3 linked regions of the Homo sapiens genome follow. The protein of the gene in region 2 interacts with the protein of the main gene of each other region in a biochemical or structural test. Each region holds a gene or a part of one and is shown on either strand. Other genes may lie near its edges.

Region 1 (8,418 bases), on a different chromosome or scaffold from region 2:
ACACGTCCTCTTATACCTCGCTACTTACGCACGGCGGCCTCTTTCTCCTGGGAAGATCAGTGGCGGCTCCAGCCAGGCCAGCTGGCAGCTCAGGGCTCAGGCGCTGGCTCATCTGAGGAGCCCTGGGCTCCAACCAGCTGCTGGGCAACGCTGGGACGACAACCTCTCCTGTCCTAAAGGGCAGGAGGTACTGCGGCTTCTTCCCCTGCCACAGTCCCAGGGACCTGACGGGGACACTCAGAGACTCTGTCTCTGCCTCCTGTGCGGGGTCATGCTCTGCCTGGAAAGCGCCTCCTTCCTTCCTGGCCCATTGGGAAATCGCAGTGTCCTCTGGCCGGTCCCAGCACCCCCGGGTGGGACCCCAGCGACCCTGCACCCCCCCACTGCAGCCGTCTCCCTCCTCCTGGCAGGGCAGCTGCCAAGCCTTGCCCAGTCCAGGTCTCCCCAGGCAGGATCCCTTGGGGGAAACCTGAGGAGGCAGCTGTTCCCCCACTCCCAGAGTGTCCTCAGAGAACCCCTTCCAGACCCCAAGCTCCAGAGCTCGGCCTCAGGTTCCCTTGCTCGGGTCTGGGAACTGGAAGTCGGTCCCGCTCCCCTCCCTGGCCTCTGCCCCATTTTTCTGTCCGCTTCCACGTAGAGCAGACCAGAATATGCCACCCCAAAATATGCCTCTTTGGCATAAGCATTATTTTGAGCTGCTTATTTTGAGAAACTGCAACCACAGGAGAAATTCTGAAAACAAGAGTGGAAGCTGCTGTTCTATGAGAGAAAGTCACATCCGTACAGGCATCTGCGCTCACCAGGGTGCCCCCTCTCTGGGCCAGAAGGCCGCCTGTAAGTCACCGGAGACGCTCATCCATGGAGAAGGCCTGACCCCAGTTTGGGGTAATTTCTTGGGCCCCTCCCCACACACTCTTTCTCTTTGTTTCCGTCGAACATGGTCTTTAAGGCTGAGCTCCAAGCCACGCCTTTGCGACATAGCCTGTCCCGAGTCCGTCCCTTGCAGACCAAGGTATACATGCTATTAAGCTTCTGTTTTTCTCTTGTTATCTGTCTTTTCCACCTTGCAGCACGAAGCTTCCCCCAGGAATCCTCCACGCCCTCACCTGCACCAAGACTTTCAATTAAGAGCAGCAGTGCCCTCCTGGTGTCTGGTGGTGCCAGGGGGCAGGCCTGGTCCTCAGGCCTGGGGTCTTCTGTCCCCCCTTATCCTGGGGAGCCCATCTGTCCCCCTCATTCCTGGGAAGCCCGTCTGCCCCCCTCATTCCTGGGGAGCCCGTCTGCCCCCCTCATTCCTGGGGAGCCTGTCTGCCCCCCCCATTCCTGGGGGACCCATCTGTCCCCCCTCATTCCTGGGGATCCCATCTGTCCCCCTCATTCCTGGGGAGCCCGTCTGCCCCCCTCATTCCTGGGGAGCCCGTCTGCCCCCCTCATTCCTGGGGGGCCCGTCTGTCCCAGGGCTTTGCATACTGAGGCCTCGCAATCCACAAGCTTTCCTAATTCCCAGCTCATCCACATGACAACAGCCCTTCCCCGGGGGCTCTGGCCGACCTCCCTTCGTCCTCACCACACAGCTGCTCTCCCTGCCCCGCCCTTAGCCCTCCTTAGACCCATCCACCCGGCCCCTAGGTGAGCCTCTCCCGACCCAAGACCCAGCGTCGTCCCTCTGTCCCCAGCCTTCCCACGGCCCCCTCACTCAGGACGCAGCCCACAGCCTGGCCCCACCTGCAGACCTTACAGAGGCCACTTGGCCCCTCACACAATGCCCACCTCACAGGCCTTCTCTCCCCGCAGAGGGTCAGACATGCCCCTGCCCCAGCCTTGGCATTTCCACCCCGCAGGCCTCCACGGGGCTGAGCCCTCAGGTACCAGCTTCTGTGCAAAGCCATGCCTGGAGGCCTTCCTGGGCCACGTGGTCTAAGACAGCAATCCCCTCACACCCAGAGCAGGCAGCCCTCCCTGCCCGGGCCGTCTTATTTTCCTATGTCATTCCTGTCACCACCTGGCGCTCACCTTGGCTAACTGGAGCTCCAGCCCCTTTGGACGAAAAGAGCTCCCAGAGCCACTCCCTGGTCTCTGATGGGGCTGTGTGTCCTCTCCAGGTGCCCTCCCCGACAGCCAGCCCCTCCGCCTCTGCACAAGGGAGGGCCCAGGGAGGCTCAGGGCCTGTGTGGCTGTGTGTGTGTCTCTATGTGTCTGTGTGTCTGTGTGTTTCTGTGTATCTATGTGTGTATGTGAATGTGTATCTGTCCATGTATCTGTGTATATCTGTGTCTGTGTGTGTGTGTATGTCTGTGTCTGTGTGTATATCTGCGTCTGTATGTATATATGCGTGTCTGTGTGTATACGTGTCTGTGTACCTGTGTCTTCGTATGTCTATGTGTGTATTGGTGTGTGTCTGTGTGTGTCCATGTGTGATGACATGTGTATCTGTGTCTATGTGTGCATCTATGTATATCTGTGTGTATGTCTTTGTGTATCTATAGATCTGTGTCTATGTGTATATTATCTCTGTGTTCATCTGAGTATTGTATGTCCATGTGTGTCTACATGTGCCTGTGTCTGTATCTGTGTCTGTCTATGTGTCTATGTGTGTATCTGTGTGTCCGTGTGTGTGTGTCCATATATCTGTCTATGCATGTATCATCTGTGTGTCTGTGTATTGTGTATCCATGCATATATCCGTAACTATGGGTATGTCTGTGTGTGTTTGTGTCCACGTGTGTGTATCTGTGTGTGTCTATATATCTGTGTCTATGTGTGTGTCTGTGTCCACGTGTGTGTATCTGTGTGTGTCTATATATCCGTGTCTGTGTGTATCTGTGTGTATCTATGTGTGCATCTGTGTGTGTCTGTTTTCTCTTTGTTTTTATGGTGTCCACGGATGGGCCGACTGAACCACCAAATTCCTCCTCAGAGCCCAGTAAAGGCACCAGGCGGAAGGGTCTGGCGGAGGGTTGGCCGCTGTCTCCTCACTCCTCAGCGGGGTCCTGTCTTCCGACTTTTGTCTCGCGCCGCCGCAGCCTGTGGACTCCTGGGCCCTCCTCTGAGAGCCTGCGCTGTGCCTGGCCCCGGGCGGAACTTTGAACGAGGCTCCTGTCTTAACTCGACTGCTTGTGCTTGGGGGAGATAAACAATAAACAGGAGCAGAAGAAAGTGTCCTCAGACCACGGCGGGTGCTGTTGGGAAAACAGTGGCGGGGCAGGGAGGGGGGCGCTTCTGAAGGACCTGGCGAGGTAGAGGCCACTGTTCTAAGAGGCAACAGACGAGATGAACCAGGACCCTCTGCGAGGGAGGGAGGCGTCCAGGGGTGCACACGGGTCCAGATAGCTGCCGGGCTCCCAAAAACCACTCTGGGGGTGAGGATGGGAGGGGAGAGGAGTTGGGGGCAGGAGGCAAGTGAAAGTAAGTGCCCAGGGAACCTCCATGAGGCCCCCCACACCGGATAATAGTGTTCCATGGGGTCTGCTCAGCCCCATGTCTGCCCCAAGACACTAGCCACAGCTCTGCGTCGAGGTCCTGTAGACCACGGGAGAGATGGGGGGGCCAGGAGCCTATAGAACTCCAAGTCCAAGGGGACCCTTGCTGGGAGAACACAGGCCAAGACCTTCCTTCCTGCCACAGGCTTCTGTCCCTGCTGTCTGCTCCCCCAGGACTCCCCCCACACCCGGGATCTTCCTCCTCACCCTCCTTGGCCTCTCTCAGTGACCCTGTCTACACACAGATGTGCTGTCCATGTGAGTGGAAGGAAGGAAGGATGAGGTCCACTCACAGGGGTGAAGCTGTCTCCTGAGGGGGCAGCCCACCTCCAGGTCACACCGCCCCACCCAACACAGCCTCCAGTCCAGCTCCAGGTGGGCCGCACCCAGCCCTTCACTCACTTCAAATGGCCCAAGACGCATGGATTCCACTGGCCAGCCGGACTGGAACAACTTCTCCCCTTATAAGTATCTAGTGGGTGCCCACGGAATGCCAGGCAATGGGCCAGGCTCAGAGATGAGTGATTCCTCAGGAACAATGGGCTCAACGCCCTTAATTCACATCAGAGGAAACTGAGGCTCAGAGAGGGCGGAGAGGGCCCTGGTAACACAGCCAGCCGGTGAAAGTAAGAGGGGGGGCCCAGGCCCTGCTCCCGGCCCACCCGCCTGGGCTTGCTGGCGAGGCTGCTGGCCCAGGCAGTCTGGGCACTGTGGAAGCAGCCGGCTTGAGGCACAGGGGATGTGGCCTCCTCCCACACACTTACCTCCCTGACTACATCTTAGGCTGACATCCAGATTAACTCATATTCCCTACAGGGAGCTGCACGGCCAGAAGCTGCTGGTTGCAGAAGCCACCAGCTGGTTGTACAAGCACCGCTCCCCTGGTTGTGGGTGACAGATGAGATGCACTCACGTGAACACACATGCATGTGCACACACACATGCACACAGACGCACACACAAACACACACAGGCATACACACGCACACGCACATCCACACACACACATGCGCACACACACGCACACGCCTGCACTCACACACCCCCGTCGGCCCCAAGCAGGAAGGCGCCCCCGGCACACCAGCCCCTCTCAGCGCCCCCAGCGGGCCCGGCGCCTGGAGGGTTAAGGCGGGCGCGTCCCGCGGGTGGGCGGGGGGGGGGGGACGGGACCGGTGCCGGGAGCTCCGCTGCCCTGGCGTCCCCTGGGTCCAGGCCCAGTCGCTCCTTGGGCCTCTCTCGCGGGGCCGCCTCCGCCTCCTCCTTGCCGAGACGGGCGTGGGGCACGGGGTCGCCGCCCGGCGGGGAGCTCATCCGGCGGCGCAGACGCCCCGCGGCTCCGGGGAGGGACTTGGCCTGGGCCCCGGCCCCGCGCTCCTCTGGGGAGGAGCCGAGAGGCTGCAGCTGGCGGCGGCGGCCCCGGGCGGGAGGGGGTCCCAGGAAGCGGCCAGGCCGGAGCCCCCCACTCGGCCGCAGCTGCTGGCCTGGCCAGAACCGAGCGCGCCCTCCCGGTCTCCGCCGCTTCCCTCTGCAAACCGCGGGCAGGAGGAGCCCTCTCCTTAGCGGGCCCGGAGCTCAGAGGCGTCGCGGGGCGCGGCCGAGGGGAGGAGGAAGGAGAGCGGGAGCGCAGCCGGCCCGGGCCCAGCCGTGACTCGTGGGGCGGCGGCTCCGCCAATCTGTGGGCGCTGACGCGGGGGGCGGCTCCGCGGCGCTCGATATCTGCCCGCCCGGGACGCGGGGCGCCGAGAGGCTCGGCCAGGCGGGAGCTGCGCTCGGGGCGGCCGCTGCACCTGCCCGGGACCCCGCCGGCCGCTCCCCGCGCCCACCCCTTCCGCCCTTCGCCCCCCCCTTCCCCCCAGCCCCGGTCTCCCGGGCGCGGCGTGAGAGCAGAGCCCGGCCCGGAGGAGCCGCCCCTTCCCCGCCCGCCCGCCCGGCGCCTGGAGAGGAGCGCGCTGAGGATCGGGACGCCTGCGGCCGCCGCCACCGCCCAGGCCCGTCGCGCCCCGGCCGGGATGGACCCACACGCCCGATGAGCCCCGCGCCGGCGGCTGCGAGCGCCGAGCCTCCCCCTGCTGCGGCCCCAGCCGCCCCCCGCGCGCCCGGCTCCGCGGACCAGGACCCCTGGGCTCCCCGGCTGAGGGCGCGGCCGCTCCGGAGAGGCCGAGCGGGGACGGGCCCGAGATGGCGCGGGGACCCAGCGCTCCGGCGGCGGGCGCCCTGCACGCGGCCCGGGCCCGGGGACAGCCCCGGAGCTGGTAGCCGCCCGGCACCGATGGACCTTGACCCGCGAGGCGGCGCCGCGCTCGTGCCCAGCTGCAGCTAGAGGGGCGCGCGGGCAGAACGCGCTCCAGGCCCGGGCCGGCCCGCGCGGCCATGAAGATGATGCTGGTGCGCCGGTTCCGCGTGCTCATCCTGATGGTGTTCCTGGTGGCCTGCGCGCTGCACATCGCCCTGGACCTGCTGCCCAGGCTGGAGCGACGCGGCGCGCGGCCCTCGGGGGAGCCCGGCTGTTCGTGCGCGCAGCCCGCCGCCGAGGTGGCCGCGCCCGGCTGGGCCCAGGTTCGGGGCCGCCCCGGGGAGCCCCCGGCCGCCTCCTCCGCCGCCGGCGACGCGGGCTGGCCCAACAAGCACACGCTCCGCATCCTGCAGGACTTCAGCTCCGACCCCTCCTCCAACCTCTCGTCCCACTCGCTGGAGAAACTGCCGCCCGCGGCCGAGCCGGCCGAGCGCGCCTTGCGGGGGCGGGATCCCGGCGCCCTAAGACCCCACGACCCCGCGCACCGGCCGCTGCTGCGAGACCCCGGCCCGCGTCGGTCCGAGTCGCCCCCCGGCCCCGGCGGAGACGCCTCCCTCCTGGCCAGGCTGTTCGAGCACCCGCTTTACCGGGTGGCGGTTCCGCCGCTCACGGAGGAGGACGTCCTGTTCAATGTGAACAGCGACACCAGGCTCAGCCCCAAAGCGGCGGAGAACCCGGACTGGTGAGTGGGGGCTGGCAGGTGCCCACCCCCAAGGGAGCCGTGAGCCCAAGGCATGGTGTAGAGAGGTTCAGGGGCCCCAGAGGGCCGCCCCCCATGGAAGAGGCCGGGCAGGGAGTGTGGTGCGGGAGGAGGCAGCCGCCTACCTCAGGGCGCTGCCTTTGTCTCCAGAATAACCTCCTCCTTGGGAGGGGCTGCCGGCTGGTCCGGGAGCTGTGCCCTGTGGCTGCTGGTGAGGAAGCCAGACCCCGCGCCCTTTAGAAGCGAGTCCTGACCAGCCGTGGTCACCAGCTTGGGAAATGGGGTCAGGCAATGAATGAATGAGTTGGTGAGGGAAGGAGCCAGGCTGCCGCTGGGCTTTCAGACACTTGGCGAGGGTGCTCTGGGTGGGCACCTTGGAGAAGGTCTGGATGTGCCTATTGAGTCTTTTAAACCCAGTGGCTGGAGCAGAATTATCAGAGGGGCTTGCTGGCAGCCGTGAGGTGCAACAAGGCGGCCCAGCCAGCAAGGGCGGTGGGTGTGCTGGCTGCAAAGAGATGATGGCTCGATAAAGGGCGAGAAGCCACGGCAGGAACCTCTCTTTAAACTGTCCTGGCTAAGCCCTTTCCCCACCCCCCGGCCCCTCCCTCCGCCACACAGATCAAAACAAGCAGATGCTACACCGAAGCAGTGGAACATTAACCACGACAAGGCCAGAATAAGTAACTACCTGCCGAAGGTTACCCCAGCAGCAGAGGGGGAGACCAGCCTTCCAAAAGATCTGGTTGAAAGTCCCTTCTTCCCTGAAATGTCCAGGCCCAGTGTCTTCTGTCTAAACACACTGGCTGTTTGGAAGCCTCTGAGCCTTGCCTGCTGGTCAGGTTCAAGGAAATGCTTGGAAATTTGAGAACCAGAGCATTGGCCTGGGCTGTGGCTCTCGGCAGGGAGAGACGGCCGCCCAGAGCAGCGAGTGGCCAGGAAGTGTATCCTAGCCCCCCACCCCGCCCCCGTGTCCACCGCAGGACAGAGCTTCGGCAGAAAGCACCTCAGCTTTAGGTGAATTCGAGCTAGGACAAGTTCCGCGTTTCCCTCCAGCCCAGCAGGCAGACGGAGGGTCTGTCCCTCCTCCAGAACGGTCCCTTGACCCCAGAGATGTGAGGACAGGCTGCGTGGGCGGCGGGTCCTCCATGGGAGCCTGGGCTGGAGAGAGTGCTGCCTCCTTCCTCTCTCCCCACCCAAGGCTGCTCTCATTAAAATCAAATTTAGCCTCTTGCATCATTGTGCCCCTGGTTGTTGGAACAAAAGCAGAGAGCTGGGGAAGGTTCCTGACAGACTGGGCGTGTCTGTGAGTTTCATGCAGCCTGTGGTCAATGGTAGGTTCTCCCCTCTACTCCAGGGGAGGGCCACAGCCCCTCGCACCCTCAGCTGAGGTCATGGTTGGGCCATTTCGGTGACCCTGGGACAGACGTGGCGGGGATGGCAGGGCAGCGCTGACGTCCTGGAATTAGTTTTGCTGTAGTTAGAGCTGTCTGTGGTGTCTCCAGAGGGTGAGTAAGAATTACAGGCCTTTCACCGTGTTATTAGTTGGCAGCCGAGCGGCCACAGAAGAAAGCGCAGACGTTGCAGGGCCCTCTTTAAGCAGAGGCGCCTTCAACACATCTGCACTTGCTTGAACCCAAAGTTAAAAACACTGGCGTCGGTGCCCTCTCCCCGTCATCCGACTCACGGGCCTGTTCTTTCCATGCTGATGTTCGTCCTCGCTGCTCCCTGCAGGCCGCATGCGGGTGCTGAAGGTGCAGAATTCCTCTCCCCCGGGGAGGCGGCCGTGGACTCCTATCCCAACTGGCTCAAGTTCCACATTGGTATCAACCGGTACGAGCTGTACTCCAGACACAACCCGGCCATCGAGGCCCTGCTGCACGACCTCAGCTCCCAGAGGATCACCAGCGTGGGTAGGTGTCCTTGGGTGCACTCAGGGCCGTCTGTGT
Region 2 (6,649 bases):
GTCCACGGGATTCACCTGTCCAGGCATCCTTTATCTAATGATACTACAAGTCACAGCTTTAACTTGGGTCCTTAAAATAGATTGGCTAGGAAGACCAATCTTGTGTTATAAAATGAAGTGTATACAGTACACTCAACGTATATCTTAAACATAATTAACAACAGATATAAAGTGAGGATCTTGTTTTAATTACCAATCCCTCCTTACCTCGGTACTGGAGAAAATCAATGGATAGTTTATTCTGTACAAAGTTCAGGAGCTTGGCCCACCTTTAGCAATATTTTCTCTCTCTTATAAAATGAGAAGAATTATTTTCTCATAAAGAAATGGTCATATCTTGGCCAGGTGCGGTGGCTCACGCCTGTAATCCCAGCACTTTGGGAGGCCGAGGTGGGTGGATCATGAGTTGAGGAGATCAAGACCATCCTGGCCAACATGGTGAAACCCTGTCTCCACTAAAATAAAAAAAATTAGCTGGGTGTGGTGGCACGCACCTGTAGTCCCAGCTACTCAGGGGGCTGAGGCAGGGGAATCATTTGAATTTGGGAGGTGGAGCTTGCAGTGAGCCAAGATCATGCCACTGCGCTCCAGCCTGGGTGACAGAGTAAGACTCCGTCTCAGAAAAAAAAAAAAAAAGAAATGGTCACATCTTATGGGTTGTGGAAAGATCCTAGTCTCACTTTTTCCTGTATCTGGCAATACAGCAGGTTTTTGTTCTCTTTTGGTTCTCTTTTCACTTTGATTTTGATTAGGGACACTGTGTTTGTTGGGGTAAAAGGCTATGCATGTGAGGGGAGCTGGGATGAAGTCGCAATAAGCATGACCACATTCAGCTTAGAACCTTCTTTATTAAGGAAGGTCTTTCAGGCACTTTCATTAACAGGCACATATAAGCTTAGCAAGAGCACCTTTCAAAGTCACAGTTCCAATGGTTTTTGTAAGGTCAACCAGAGGCAGAGAACACAATCATGGTGGCTTACCGTCAAAATCATGACAAGTTGTCAACCTAATGCCTTCTGTCAAACATAACCACCACCCACTCTGCTTCTGTCCTGTGAGGAATGACGGGAAGTAGGGAGTCAAGACTTGATATTAATGTAGATCGCATGTGACACTTGCGTGGCCAGCAGACAAGGCCCCCCACCCATGCCCAGGCTTGGACAAAATGGTGGCTATGTTTTCTGTGCCAAACCTCCTCATCTCTGCCATGTCTAGCCTAGACCTTGAAGTGTCTGATCCTCCCCGGACATGGAGGAACCACTGGCCCAGCAGCAGCACCAACACTAGGCTGCACCACTGTGCGTGTTTTCCGGGGGTGCGACACTTCTCCTGAGGGTGACCCCAATGAGACCACACCCATGAAGGTGTGGCGCAGGTCGTAGTGCGCCCGGTGCAACTGGTGTCCTGGAGGAGCTGCCAGTAACACATGGGAGTCTGGGGGTGAGCCAGCTGGAGGGAGTCCAGGTGCGCCAAGTGGAGGGGACGGAGGTGCATCTGGGTCCACCACGGGTGTGGGGACTGCTTCATTGGCACCTTCTGGTTGGGGCTGTGAGCTCACGGGCTGGAAAAAGGACCATTTCCTTCAGTTAGTTTGCTTCCTCCTCCCAGGCAAGACAACCCACAGGCCCAGGTGGCACTGGCACCCAATTTCCTCACATTATACATTTTTATTTGCAAAGAGTCTAGCAAGAAAGGACCTACCCAAGTACAAGGGATTGTCATCAAGGTTACAAGGAGGGGTGACTGGCCTATGTTGGCCCCGGCCTCACTAGGATTGTCTTTGTGATGGTGGACTTACACGCATATGTCCAATGAGTAAAAGCACCCCACCTATGGCTCACCCTTGCCCAGCAGTGCCACCCTCTTTGTCATCTGAAGCTGCAGCCACTGGGAGCTAACAGGTAGATCTGGCCACCTGGTCTCTGCAACTCAGAAAACCACTCCCACCTCCCACAAATAAAAAGGTGGCTTTGTCAACTACACAGTAAGATGGTTCTTCCCTGTAGTCACTAGTTCGTGGGAGGGAAAGGCATAGCTAAAATATCCTTCCATTTGTTGATGATTCCGCATACCCCAGTGTTATTTCATACTGTGAGATTCAGAAGCACAGGAGAGCAAATGTCCTGTCATCACTACTGCACTGCATAAATGTGAAGGGGTCATTGTATTCTGAAGGTGTAGGCAAGAATATTCACGGAGCTGTTACCTGTGTTTGGAACACCATGCAGGTCACTGCAACCTCTGCCCCACCAAGCTTCTCACTGAGTGTTGCCTTACAAAAGCCATATTGCTGCCCACAGAGAAAGAGGATTTATTTTAACTAATTTCAAAAATGGATCCCCCCCAATTTCATTGACGCGCCAACCTTAAATTAGTTTGAAAAACCATTTTTCTTAAAGTTATAGTTTCTGCTTGTGGGAGGTATATGATTCTATATATAACATGGAAATACAGAAATACTTTGAGAGTGAGAGAGATTACCCATAATCCCTTTCTGGTGGTGGCCTAGAAAGAAGGACTGTTAACATTGATGCATTTCTTTCTTATTTTAAAATACTATTAAATATGATTTAAAAATTGAGATCATTGTGACTATACGATGTTGTATCCTGTGTGTTTTCACTTGCCATAATAGCATTTTCTCATATCATTCATTATTCCTTGAAAACACAATTTTTAGTGTCTGCACAATTTTCTATTTACTGATGTGCATGGATTATTCAATGACACCTTCCTGTTGGACATACAGATCTCTCTTTTTTGGTCTCTTTATATCCATAATAAATCATTTTTATAGATATATTCTGTCAAATGTCACTGATGAATTCTTTTTCTTTTTCTTTTTTTCTTGAGACAGAGTCTCGTTCTGTTGCCCAGGCTGGAGTGCAGTGGCACGATCTTAGTTTACTGCAACATCTGCCTCCTGGGTTCACACCATTCTCCTGCCTCAGCCTCCCGAGTAGCTGGGACTACAGGCGCTCACCACCAAGCCTGGCTAATTTTTTTGTATTTTTAGTAGAGACGGGGTTTCACCATGTTAGCCAGGATGGTCTCGATCTCCTGACCTCCCGATCCACCCGTCTTGGCCTCCCAAAGTGCTGGAATTACAGGCATGAGCCATCATGCCTGGCCACTGATGACTTCTTTAGACTAAAATCCTAGAAGTGTACATTATTGGCTCAAGGACTTGAAAGCTTTTGTATCAGAGTTATATGTCTAGAAAATGTGCACTTCACATTCCCAGTGGGTGGGCGTGACTTGGCTTCATTAGCAAATAGCCTCTCTCTTTCTCCTAACTTCATGTGCTTCCAGTGGGTGAGATGATTTGATGACAGCTCTTAAAGGGATGAGGTGACACCCTAAAAGAAGGCTTGCCGTGATCCACAGGGAGAGGGGATTTGCACTGTTATTCTCTGTCTGCAGCCCCAAGATACAAACTATCCAAGGATGTTCTGTTCCACAAACAGCTCTGTCCGAGTGGTAACACCCCAAGGTCCCGGCCCACTCACCTTTTCTGCCAGCAGGTTACACTTGGCTGCCTCTGTGGCCTCTTTAGCAACACAGTCAGTGCCAGACACTGTAAACTCCACATAGGTAGAAGGTGGGAGGGGCTGAGAAGAGTACATGAAAATGCTCTTGAGGAAAGATGACTTACAATGAAAAGGGCAGAGAAGGAGAGCGGGAAGTAGCCTCCTTCGGGGAGCACCATTCATGCAGACCATGCGTCGGCCCAGAAGACATGTCCCTCAATGGCTTACATAGGGCAGTTGCTATGGGGTTGTGTTCTCAAGTGCTTGTGCTTTAGAGGTAGGGGTTGTGTCTTCCTTGTAGGAGGGGCAAGTATCCATCACCGGTCCTTCAGGGTGGAGGTGAGTTTGCAGATAGGAAACCGGAATCAGAAGGCCAGCATTAGACTGATAGGAGTGGGAACCCTGCCTCCCCCCAGCCCTCACTCTTGGGCTGCACTTGATACCCAAGGTTCAGGTTATTCCAAAATAGGGTGGGAAAGTGAAGAGATTAATACCTCTTCCACCTGTTTCATAGAGCAGGCTCAAATGAAAAGATTTAGATGAAAGTATGGAAGATATCACTTGAGCTTTTCTTTTTTAAAGTAGTTGGAGCATATGGACACAATAAAATATCTGTTATTTGGTGTAGTCTGGGGTGGGGATGTTCTGAGAATCACATATTCTGATTAATAGAATTGCCGTCTATACTAGCGTATTTCCAAGTATGGCCATGGCTGATATCCAGAATACATTTTCTTAAACATTTGAATTCTGTTGAATTCCAATGTGCTAAACCACCCACAGTACAATGAGATGTTTTCTCCAGTGACTCGAAAGGCATTTTAAGATCTTGCCATTATAAGCTTGTCAGCACAAGTGAGTATTAATTACGAGTCTGTGGCAGATGTTCAGCGGAGATGGGTGGTACTGGAGCCCAGCAAATTTACAGTGAGTGCTTCTGGCCGACGTGGGCAACTCTACCAGCTGACACTGAGCTTTGGTTTTAGCTGGAACGGAGGGAGTGGGGATGTACCTGCCGGCAGCTGTGGCTGCTGGACGTTACAGTGGCTCAGCATGGGGGAGGCGCTGAGGGTGTTGGGGTCCTCATGACACTCAGGAGCCTCATACCCCCTTAGGATGCTTTCTTCCCTTTCCAAACAACCCTCTCCTTGCTTTCTCATCGCTGCCCCTGCGCCTGTTCTTCCCTGCCTCCCGCTCCACCACGTACAGTACATTCCCGAAGTGCCACCGAACTGCCCAACCTGTCAAAAGAATCTCAGTCTTTACCACAAGCTGAGCCCGGGAAATTTCCTCCAGCTGAAAATTGGAGCCGTTGTTCTGAGCGTTGAAGGCGGCCAGGGCAGCTTTCGCGGCGTGCACCACCCTGGTGTCGTTCAGCGGGGCCAGCAGGGGGCAGTCTTGGCACACCTTGCGCACGTCCTCGGCTGAGTCTGCTCGGAGAGAGGAAACCAGGATGTGGGCAGCCATTCTCCCTGGCATGGCCCCAGCTCTGCTGCGTTAGCAAGGGCTAAGGCATTCCCCAGATAGCTTCAGGCACTTTCTCTGCTTCTTACTAAACCTTCAAAAGGCTTTTGCTATGCTGACATTTCTGCAGGAGCTCTTATCATCACGAGGCAATTTTCACTTCCAGTAAGAATAACTTCTTATTTTTTTGAGACAGGGTCTCACTCTGTGTCACTCAGGCTGGAGTGCAGTGGTGCGATCTCGGCCCACTGCCACCTCTGCCTCCCAGGTTCAAGCGATTCTCCTGCCTCAGCCTCCCTAGTAGCTGGGATTACAGGCGAGCACCACCACATTTTTGTATTTTTAGTAGAGATGGGGGTTTCACTATGTTGGCCAGGCTGGTCTCGAACTTCTGACTTCAGGTGATCCACCTGCCTCGGGTGGGTGGATTACAGGCGTGAGCCACCGCACCAGGCCAAGAGTAGCTTCTTAAAACACAATTTTAAAAATCCCAGAACCCAGGAAATTTGGCTTCTCCTTTTCCTCACCGACAAAGCTGCTAGAACTACTTAAGTTGAAAATTATTCAGATCCCTTCCCCACTTTCTCTACAAGGAAAAAATGAGAATAAGAATAGTCATCTGTACCTGGACTGGAATCACATTTTGCGTATACCACGGAAAACTTGCCATCTAGTTTCAACAGCTGGAAATCACAGTCTCCTTCGACAGCCTGGAGAAAGAAACCCACGTGAGGATGGCTGCCCTTCCCCTTCGCACCCCGGGCAGGCTCCCTCCAGGCACGGCTGTCAAAGGTGACCCTTGCAAAATCGCCTTTGCTGGGTAATACTGAAACATGGCACTCTCTGCTTTCAGGGATACAACGATATAGTTAAACGCTTGTAAAAATCAGCCCCAGGGCAAGTGGCATCAAATGGCAATTTTATTTATGATGATGATTATTATTATTATTATTTCGAGATAGAGATTCACTGTTGTTGCCCAGGCTGGAGTGCAATGGCAGGATCTTGGCTCACTGCAACCTCCACCTCCCGGGTTCAAGCGATTCTCCTGCCTCAGCCTCCCGAGGAGCTGGGATTTACAGGTGCCCGTCACCACGTCCAGCTAATTTTTGTATTTTTAGTAGAGATGGGGTTTCACCATACTGGCCAGGCTGGTCTTGAACTCCTGACCTCAGGCGATCCACTTGCCTCAGCCTCCCAAAGTGCTGAGATTATAGGCATGAGCCACTGCGCTCGGCCACAAATGGCAATTTTAGAAACTGCACCCTGGCTAGCCAAGAAGGCAGGCTGAGACGCTGGGTGAATCGGTGGAGCTGGCCGAAGGGCCACCTACAGTCATCCTAAGAAGGGTACTCACATGCTCCTTCAGCTGCCTCACGCTGCATCTTGCCACAGGGGTGGGGTCCAGCACATGGCAGGTGGTTTCCAGGGTGTCTATTTCAATCTCAAACAGCTCTCCGGAGGGCTGCTGTGGAGACAAAGAGTGAAGCCGTGAGCAACCTATTCCCCTGATCCTGTGGTGCGGTCCACGGTATGCGCCCTCATTGGGCTTGAGAGCACCCCGCTTTTGGAGAGGTGAGGGAAATGTCATTCTTACTGTCAGTCTGCAACTCCGTCTAGCTCTGAACTGGCCTGTGGGCAGGACAATGACCAGG
Region 3 (7,890 bases), on a different chromosome or scaffold from region 2:
CAGGCGTGAGCCACCACGCCCAGTGCCTGGCTAATTTTTTTGTATTTTCAGTAGAGACGGGGTTTCACTGTGTTAGCCAGGATGGTCTCGATCTCCTGACCTCATGATCCGCCTGCCTTGGCCTCCCAAAGTGCTGGGATTACAGGCGTGAGCCACCACGCCCAGCCTATTTTTATATATTTTTAAGACAGAGTCTCTCTCTGTCGCCCAGAGTGGAGTGCAGTGGCACAATCTCGGCTCACTGCAACCTCTGCCTCCCAGGTTCAAGCAATTCTCCTGCCGCGGCCTCCTGAGTAGCTGGGATAACAGGAGCCCACCACCACACCCAGCTAATTTTTGTATTTTTAGTAGAGATGGGGTTTCGCCATGTTGGCCAGGCTGGTCTCGAACTCCTGAATTCAGGTGATCCACCGGCCTCAGCCTCCCAAAGTGCTGGGATTACAGGCATAAGCCACCACCCCCAGCTGACTCCAAACCCTTTATACATTAGGAGCAAATGCTATGGAAACATGAAGAAAGGGAGGAAAGGAGGGTTGGACAGGGGTGTATTTGAGCAAAGACTTAGAGGACATGAGGAGCTGGGCCCTGTGGATGTGGCAGGGAACAGAGAGCCAGGCAGAGGGAATGATTAAAATACAAAGGCCTGGCTGGGTGCAGTGGCTATAATCCCAGCACTTTGGGAGGCTGAGGCAGGCGGATCACCAGAGGTCAGGAGTTCAAGACCAGCCTGACCAACATGGAGAAATCCTGTCTCTACTAAAAATACAAAAATTAGCCGGGTGTGGAGGCGGGCACCTGTAACCCCAGCTACTCGGGAGACTGAGGCAGGAGAATTGCTTGAACCCGGGAGGCAAAGGTTGCAGTGAGCCGAGATCACGCCACTGCACTCTAGCCTGGGTAACAGCAAGATTCCGTCTCGAAAATTAAAAAAAAAAAAATACAAAGGCCTATCTGTCTGCTGTCCGGGCAGGTATGTCTGCTCTCCTAGACCAGGGCTGAGCACGCTGCATCCAGGCCACAGGGTGCTGTGTGTGACATAGACACCAGGGAGGGAGGAGAACCCTGGTGAGTCGAATCACGGACCCTCCTCCAAGAACCCTGGTTGCTTGCTCTGCAGGTGCGCCTCCTGGGAGTGGTGTCCAAGGGCCAGCCCACGCTGGTGGTGATGGAGCTGATGGCTCACGGAGACCTGAAGAGCTACCTCCGTTCTCTGCGGCCAGAGGCTGAGGTAAGCTGCTTCGGGGGACCCAGCGGGGTACTCGGTGGAGCACCCGCTCCTGGCCTCCTCGGATCCCAGTGCTGCTGAAACACCAACCCCGTGTTTCTGTTTTAGAATAATCCTGGCCGCCCTCCCCCTACCCTTCAAGAGATGATTCAGATGGCGGCAGAGATTGCTGACGGGATGGCCTACCTGAACGCCAAGAAGTTTGTGCATCGGGACCTGGCAGCGAGAAACTGCATGGTCGCCCATGATTTTACTGTCAAAATTGGAGGTTCGTCTGGCTTTCTGCTTTGAAAACATAACGACCCAGGCCAGGTTTGATTTCAGAAGGAAGTTGTCTATAATGAGCCGTTAAGTCTTTTCTGATAATATAAAGGGGCAAGATACTTCTTTTTTTTTTGTGGGGTTTTTTTTGTTTTGTTTTGTCTTTTTGTTTTTGAGACGGAGTCTTACTCTGTCTGTTGCCCAGGCTGGAGTGCAGTGGTGTGATCTCAGCTCACTGCAACCTCCACCTCCCAGGTTCAAGTGATTCACCTGCCTCAGCCTTCCAAGTAGCTGGGACTACAGGTGTGCGCCACCATGCCTGGCTAATTTTTGTATTTTTAGTGGAGATGGGGTTTCATCCATGTTGGCCAGGATAGTCTTGATCTCCTGACCTCGTGATCCTCCTGCCTCGGCCTCCCAAAGTGCTGGGATTACAGGCGTGAGCCACTGCACCGGCTTTTTTTTTTTTTCTTTTTTCTGACATGGAGTCTTGCTCTGTCGCCCAGGCTGGAGTGCAGTGACAGGATCTCGGCTCACTGAACCTCCACCTCTTGGGTTCAAGCGATTCTCCTGCCTCAGCCTCCTGAGTAGCTAGGATTACAGGCGTGCGCCACCACACCCAGCTACTTTTTGTATTTTTAGTAGAGACGGAGTTTCACTGTGTTGGCCAAGATGGTCTCAAACTCCTGACCTCATATGATCCACCTGTGTTGGCCTCCCAAAGCACTGGGATTACAGGCATGAGCCACTGTGCCTGGCTGGGCAAGATTTTGGATGGGGACCCCCCACCAGCTGTCATTTAATTGCATGTATTGATAAACTCACTTACCCATTCACTTCTTTAAAAGATATGTTTGTAGGACCGGGGGTCCCGCCTGTAATCTCAGTGCTTTGGAAGTCCAATGTGTAAAGACTGCTTGAGTCCAGGAGTTTGAGACCAGCCTGGGCAACATAGTGAGACTCCATCTCCTTGAAAAGATTTTTTAAAAAGTGGGGTGTGGTGGTGCACACCTGTGGTCCCAGCTACTCAGGAGGCTGGGGTGGGAGGATTGCTTGAGCCCAGGAGGTGGAGGCTGCAGTGAGCTGTGACAGCATCACTGCACTCCAGCCTGGGTGACAGTGAGACGCTATTTCAAAAAACAAATAAAAAAGGAATATAGAGGGGACCAGAGCAGCGTGAGATGTGAGGATGAGGAGAGAGGCAGAAACCAGACCCAGAAGGACCTTGCGTGTCACAGCAAGTCATCTCGACATTATCTTACATTAGCAAGGGGCAGCAGGAAGTGATATGATTCTATTTATGACTCAAAAAGACATCTCCTGGCCAGGTGCGGTGGCTCACCCCTGTAATCCCAGCACTTTGGGAGGCTGAGGTGGGTAGATTACCTGAGATCAGGAGTTCGAGACCAGCCTGGTCAACACGGTGAAACCCTGTCTCTACTCAAAATACAAAACATTAGCTAGACATGGTGGCAGACAGCTGTAATCCTAGCTACTCAGGAGGCTGAGGCAAGAGAATTGCTTGAATCAGGGAGGTAGAGGTTGCAGTGAGCCAAGATTGCACCACTGCACTCCAGCCTGGAGGACAGAGTGAGGCTCCATATCAAAGAAAAAAAAAAAGAAAAATGTAGCTTCTTTGTGATTTGGTACCTTCTTTTCCCTCCCTTTAAACAGTAGCCCATCTTCCCCCTTCACTTCCCCATGCGTACCCTCAGAATCCATTCTTACTGGATTTGGCCACCACCCAGGTGAGCGCAGACGTGGGCCAGGTGAACCCCTCTTAGGGCTCTGTGAGAGGTGGGGCAGTCAAGGTGGCAGATGCTAGGACCAAGGCTGAAGGTTAAGAGCGTGTGAACCTTTTGTGTTGTCAGACTTTGGAATGACCAGAGACATCTATGAAACGGATTACTACCGGAAAGGGGGCAAGGGTCTGCTCCCTGTACGGTGGATGGCACCGGAGTCCCTGAAGGATGGGGTCTTCACCACTTCTTCTGACATGTGGTGAGTTGTGTGTGGATGGGTGGATGGACGCTGGGCTTGAATTCCAGGTGCTAGTGAGAGCCAAGAGCGGGGGAAGGAAGCCTGCCATCCTCCTGGACGCCCCATCAAGGAAAGGAAGGCAGCGTCCTGTCTTAGGATCTTCCCACGGCTACTCTTATGTCCTGACTAATCCTGTAGGCATTGTGAACCCCGAAAATCTGAGACAGGTCTCAGTTAATTTAGGAAGTTTATTTTGCCAAGGTTGAGGACGTGTGCCCGTGGCACAGCCTCAGGTGGTCCTGAGGACAGGTGCCCAAGGTGGTCAGAGCACAGTTTGGTTTTATACATTTTAGGGAGACATGAGACATCAGTCAACATATATAAGATGAACATTGGTTCGGTCTGGAAAGACGAGACAACTCGAAGTGGGGAGGGAGCTTCCAGGTTGTAGGTAGATAAGAGACAAATGGTTGCATTCTTTTGAGTTTCTGATGCGCCTCTCCAAAGGAGCCAATCAGATATGCAGGTATCTCAGTGAGCAGAGTGGGGACTCTGAATAGAATGGGAAGCAGGTTTGTCCAAGCAGTTCCTAGCTGGACTTTTTCCTTGAGTTTAGTGATTTGGGAGCCCCAAATTGATTTTCCTTTCACAGCATTTATGAACTGCAGCATGAATTGTTTTATTAAGTGGCTAACCATGTTCTAGAAACCAAGAGATGTGTTTGTGTGTGTGTTTGTGTGTGTATGTGTGTGCATATGTGTGTTTGTGTGTGTTTGCATGTGTGTGCGTGTGTGTGTTTGGGTGTGTGTGTTTGTGTGTGTATATGTGTTTGTGTGTTTGCATATTTGTGTGTGCATGTGTGCGCATGCGTGTTTGTGTGTATTTGCATGTGTGTGCACGTGTATGTGCGTGTGTGTTTGCATGTGTGTGTTTGCATGTATGTGTTGGCATGTGTGTTTGCGTGTGTGTGTGCGTTTGCGTGTGTGTGTTTGCGCGCGCGCGTGTGTGTGTGTGTCTAAATGGCTTCTTTGTTACTACTATCAACTGTCATCGGCAGGTCCTTTGGCGTGGTCCTTTGGGAAATCACCAGCTTGGCAGAACAGCCTTACCAAGGCCTGTCTAATGAACAGGTGTTGAAATTTGTCATGGATGGAGGGTATCTGGATCAACCCGACAACTGTCCAGAGAGAGTGTAAGTGTAGAAAGGGTTTAAGGTGTGTGAGGTGTTCGTTGAAAGGGTATTGCCCTTTACACGTGTGCTTGGTTTTGCCTTTCCTATGTCTACACGCTCACCGTGTTTGCATGCTGTATGTTACAGGTGTGTTTGTGTTTGCATAGCTTGTCTTTACATGCATGCTTGCATTTGCATATTGCATTGTGGTACACACACTTGAGTTCCCATATGTGCTACATGTACGCTTACGTTTGCATATTATATATTTACATAGGTATTTATGTTTGCATATTATATGTTTCTGTGTGCATCAGCATATCATGGCACATGTACACCTCATTTACATATTATAAGCACACATGTTTACATATTATGTCTTTACCTGCCTGCTTGTGTTCACAAATCATATGATTTTCTTGCATATTGTATCTTTGGAAGGTTGCACAAAACACCTATAGCGGTAGTTATCTTGGGAGAAGGGAACTGGAGACCTGGGGTTGGGGGAGAGAGACCTGTTTGCCTGTTAATTTTTTTTTTTTTTTTTTTTTTTTTGAGACGGAATCTTGCTCTGTCACCCAGGCTGGAGTGCAGTGGTGCGAGCTCGGCTGACTTCAAGCTCCGCCTCCCGGGTTCACACCATTCTCTTGCCTCAGCCTCCCGAGTAGCTAGGACTACAGGCACCCACCACCGCGCCTGGCTAATTTTTTTTTTTTTTTGTATTTTTAGTAGAAATGGGGTTTCACCGTGGTCTCGATCTCCTGACCTCGTGATCCACCCACCTTGGCTTCCCAAAGTGCTGGGATTACAGCCGCCTGTTAATTCTTTATACACTTAAAATTTTGTCAGGTAGCTGGGCATGGGTGGCTCACGCCTGTAATCCCAAGCAATTTGGGAGACCGAGGTGAACGATCACCTAAGGTCAGGAGTTCAAGACCAGCCTGGCCAACATGGTGAAACCCCGCCTCTATTAAAAATATAAAAATTACCCAGGCGCGGTCGTGGGCGCCTGTAATCCCAGCTACTCAGGAGGCTGAGGCAGGAGAATTGCTTGAATCGGGGAGGCAGAGGTTGCAGTGAGCAGAGACTGCACCATTGCACTGCAGCATGGGTGACAGAGTGAGATTCTGTCTCAAAAACAAACACAGACACACAAAAATTTTGTCAGGCATACATATTATATATTCCCCCCTCCAAATATATATGCATATGTACATATATATATATTTAGATGAAGTCTCGCTGTGTCACCCAGGCTGGTAGAGCGCAGTGGCACAATCACAGCTCACTGCAACCTTGAACTCCTGGACTCAGCCTCCTGGCTCAACCTCCCAAAGTGCTGGGATTACTCTTGAGCCAGTTTTGAAATGAGGAATCCCTTTTCAAAACCATCTTTCAGGCTGGACAGGATGGCTCATGCCTGGAACCTCAGCACTTTGGGAGGTTGAGGCAGGAGGATGGCTTGAGCCCAGGAGTTCAAGGCTGCAATGAGCTATGATTGCGCCACTGCACTCCATCCTGGGTGACAAAGTGAGAAACCCTGTCTCAAAAAAAAAAAAAAGCGGCCAGGCATGGTGGCTAACACCTGTAATCCCAGCACCTTGGGAGGCCAAGGTGGGTGGATCATTTGAGCCTAGGAGTTTGAGGCCAGCCTGGGCAACATAGCAAAACCCTGTCTCTGCAAAAAATACAAAAATTAGCTAGGCATGGTGGTGCACACCTGTGGTCCCAGCTACTTGGGAGGCCAAGGTGAGAGGATTGCTCGAGCCTAGGAGGCAGAGGCTGCAGTGAGCTATGATCATGCCACTGCACTCCAGCCTGGGTGACAGAATGAGACGCTGTGTCCAAAATAAGAAGAAGAAAAGCAAAAAGAAAACACCATCTCTCAGCACCTCTAGCAATGCTATTTCTGCCTTGACAATTGTCCACACACACAGCCAGCATCTGATGTGAGCACATGTGGTCCGTGGGTGTCGGCTGCAGGGACAAGAGTGGGGGTTTGGGAGGATGCGTGGCAGGGCCCCCAGACTCACCCAGGACGTGTCCTTCTGCCCCGCAGCACTGACCTCATGCGCATGTGCTGGCAATTCAACCCCAAGATGAGGCCAACCTTCCTGGAGATTGTCAACCTGCTCAAGGACGACCTGCACCCCAGCTTTCCAGAGGTGTCGTTCTTCCACAGCGAGGAGAACAAGGCTCCCGAGAGTGAGGAGCTGGAGATGGAGTTTGAGGACATGGAGAATGTGCCCCTGGACCGTTCCTCGCACTGTCAGAGGGAGGAGGCGGGGGGCCGGGATGGAGGGTCCTCGCTGGGTTTCAAGCGGAGCTACGAGGAACACATCCCTTACACACACATGAACGGAGGCAAGAAAAACGGGCGGATTCTGACCTTGCCTCGGTCCAATCCTTCCTAACAGTGCCTACCGTGGCGGGGGCGGGCAGGGGTTCCCATTTTCGCTTTCCTCTGGTTTGAAAGCCTCTGGAAAACTCAGGATTCTCACGACTCTACCATGTCCAATGGAGTTCAGAGATCGTTCCTATACATTTCTGTTCATCTTAAGGTGGACTCGTTTGGTTACCAATTTAACTAGTCCTGCAGAGGATTTAACTGTGAACCTGGAGGGCAAGGGGTTTCCACAGTTGCTGCTCCTTTGGGGCAACGACGGTTTCAAACCAGGATTTTGTGTTTTTTCGTTCCCCCCACCCGCCCCCAGCAGATGGAAAGAAAGCACCTGTTTTTACAAATTCTTTTTTTTTTTTTTTTTTTTTGCTGGTGTCTGAGCTTCAGTATAAAAGACAAAACTTCCTGTTTGTGGAACAAAAGTTCGAAAGAAAAAACAAAACAAAAACACCCAGCCCTGTTCCAGGAGAATTTCAAGTTTTACAGGTTGAGCTTCAAGATGGTTTTTTTGGTTTTTTTTTTTTCTCTCATCCAGGCTGAAGGATTTTTTTTTTCTTTACAAAATGAGTTCCTCAAATTGACCAATAGCTGCTGCTTTCATATTTTGGATAAGGGTCTGTGGTCCCGGCGTGTGCTCACGTGTGTATGCACGTGTGTGTGTCCATTAGACACGGCTGATGTGTGTGCAAAGTATCCATGCGGAGTTGATGCTTTGGGAATTGGCTCATGAAGGTTCTTCTCAAGGGTGCGAGCTCATCCCCCTCTCTCCTTCCTTCTTATTGACTGGGAGACTGTGCTCTCGACAGATTCTTCTTGTGTCAGAAGTCTAGCCTCAGGTTTCTACCCTCCCTT

The links. Proteins that work in one complex are often made in the same cells at the same time.
Region 1: of the proteins of AHSG (region 2) and FAM20C, one has a biochemical effect on the other in vitro, tested with the Homo sapiens proteins (one study listed by IntAct).
Region 3: the proteins of AHSG (region 2) and INSR form a complex in vitro, tested with the Homo sapiens proteins (one study listed by BioGRID).

What each region holds. Positions count from the first base shown.
Region 1 is NC_000007.14:187,351-195,768, forward strand, and holds the start of FAM20C (extracellular serine/threonine protein kinase FAM20C precursor), read left to right. Parts: upstream 1-5,220; 5' UTR 5,221-5,849; coding exon 5,850-6,454; intron 6,455-8,203; coding exon 8,204-8,382; intron 8,383-8,418. UniProt on the Homo sapiens protein: Golgi serine/threonine protein kinase that phosphorylates secretory pathway proteins within Ser-x-Glu/pSer motifs and plays a key role in biomineralization of bones and teeth.
Region 2 is NC_000003.12:186,615,498-186,622,146, reverse strand, and holds the end of AHSG (alpha-2-HS-glycoprotein isoform 2 preproprotein), read right to left. Parts: intron 6,463-6,649; coding exon 6,352-6,462; intron 5,705-6,351; coding exon 5,620-5,704; intron 4,964-5,619; coding exon of another isoform or gene 4,961-4,963; coding exon 4,797-4,960; intron 3,612-4,796; coding exon 3,510-3,611; intron 2,291-3,509; coding exon 2,207-2,290; intron 1,562-2,206; coding exon 1,217-1,561; 3' UTR 829-1,216; downstream 1-828. UniProt on the Homo sapiens protein: Promotes endocytosis, possesses opsonic properties and influences the mineral phase of bone. Shows affinity for calcium and barium ions.
Region 3 is NC_000019.10:7,116,217-7,124,106, reverse strand, and holds part of INSR (insulin receptor isoform Long preproprotein), read left to right. Parts: intron 1-1,117; coding exon 1,118-1,228; intron 1,229-1,333; coding exon 1,334-1,493; intron 1,494-3,357; coding exon 3,358-3,487; intron 3,488-4,523; coding exon 4,524-4,658; intron 4,659-6,696; coding exon 6,697-7,051; 3' UTR 7,052-7,890. UniProt on the Homo sapiens protein: Receptor tyrosine kinase which mediates the pleiotropic actions of insulin.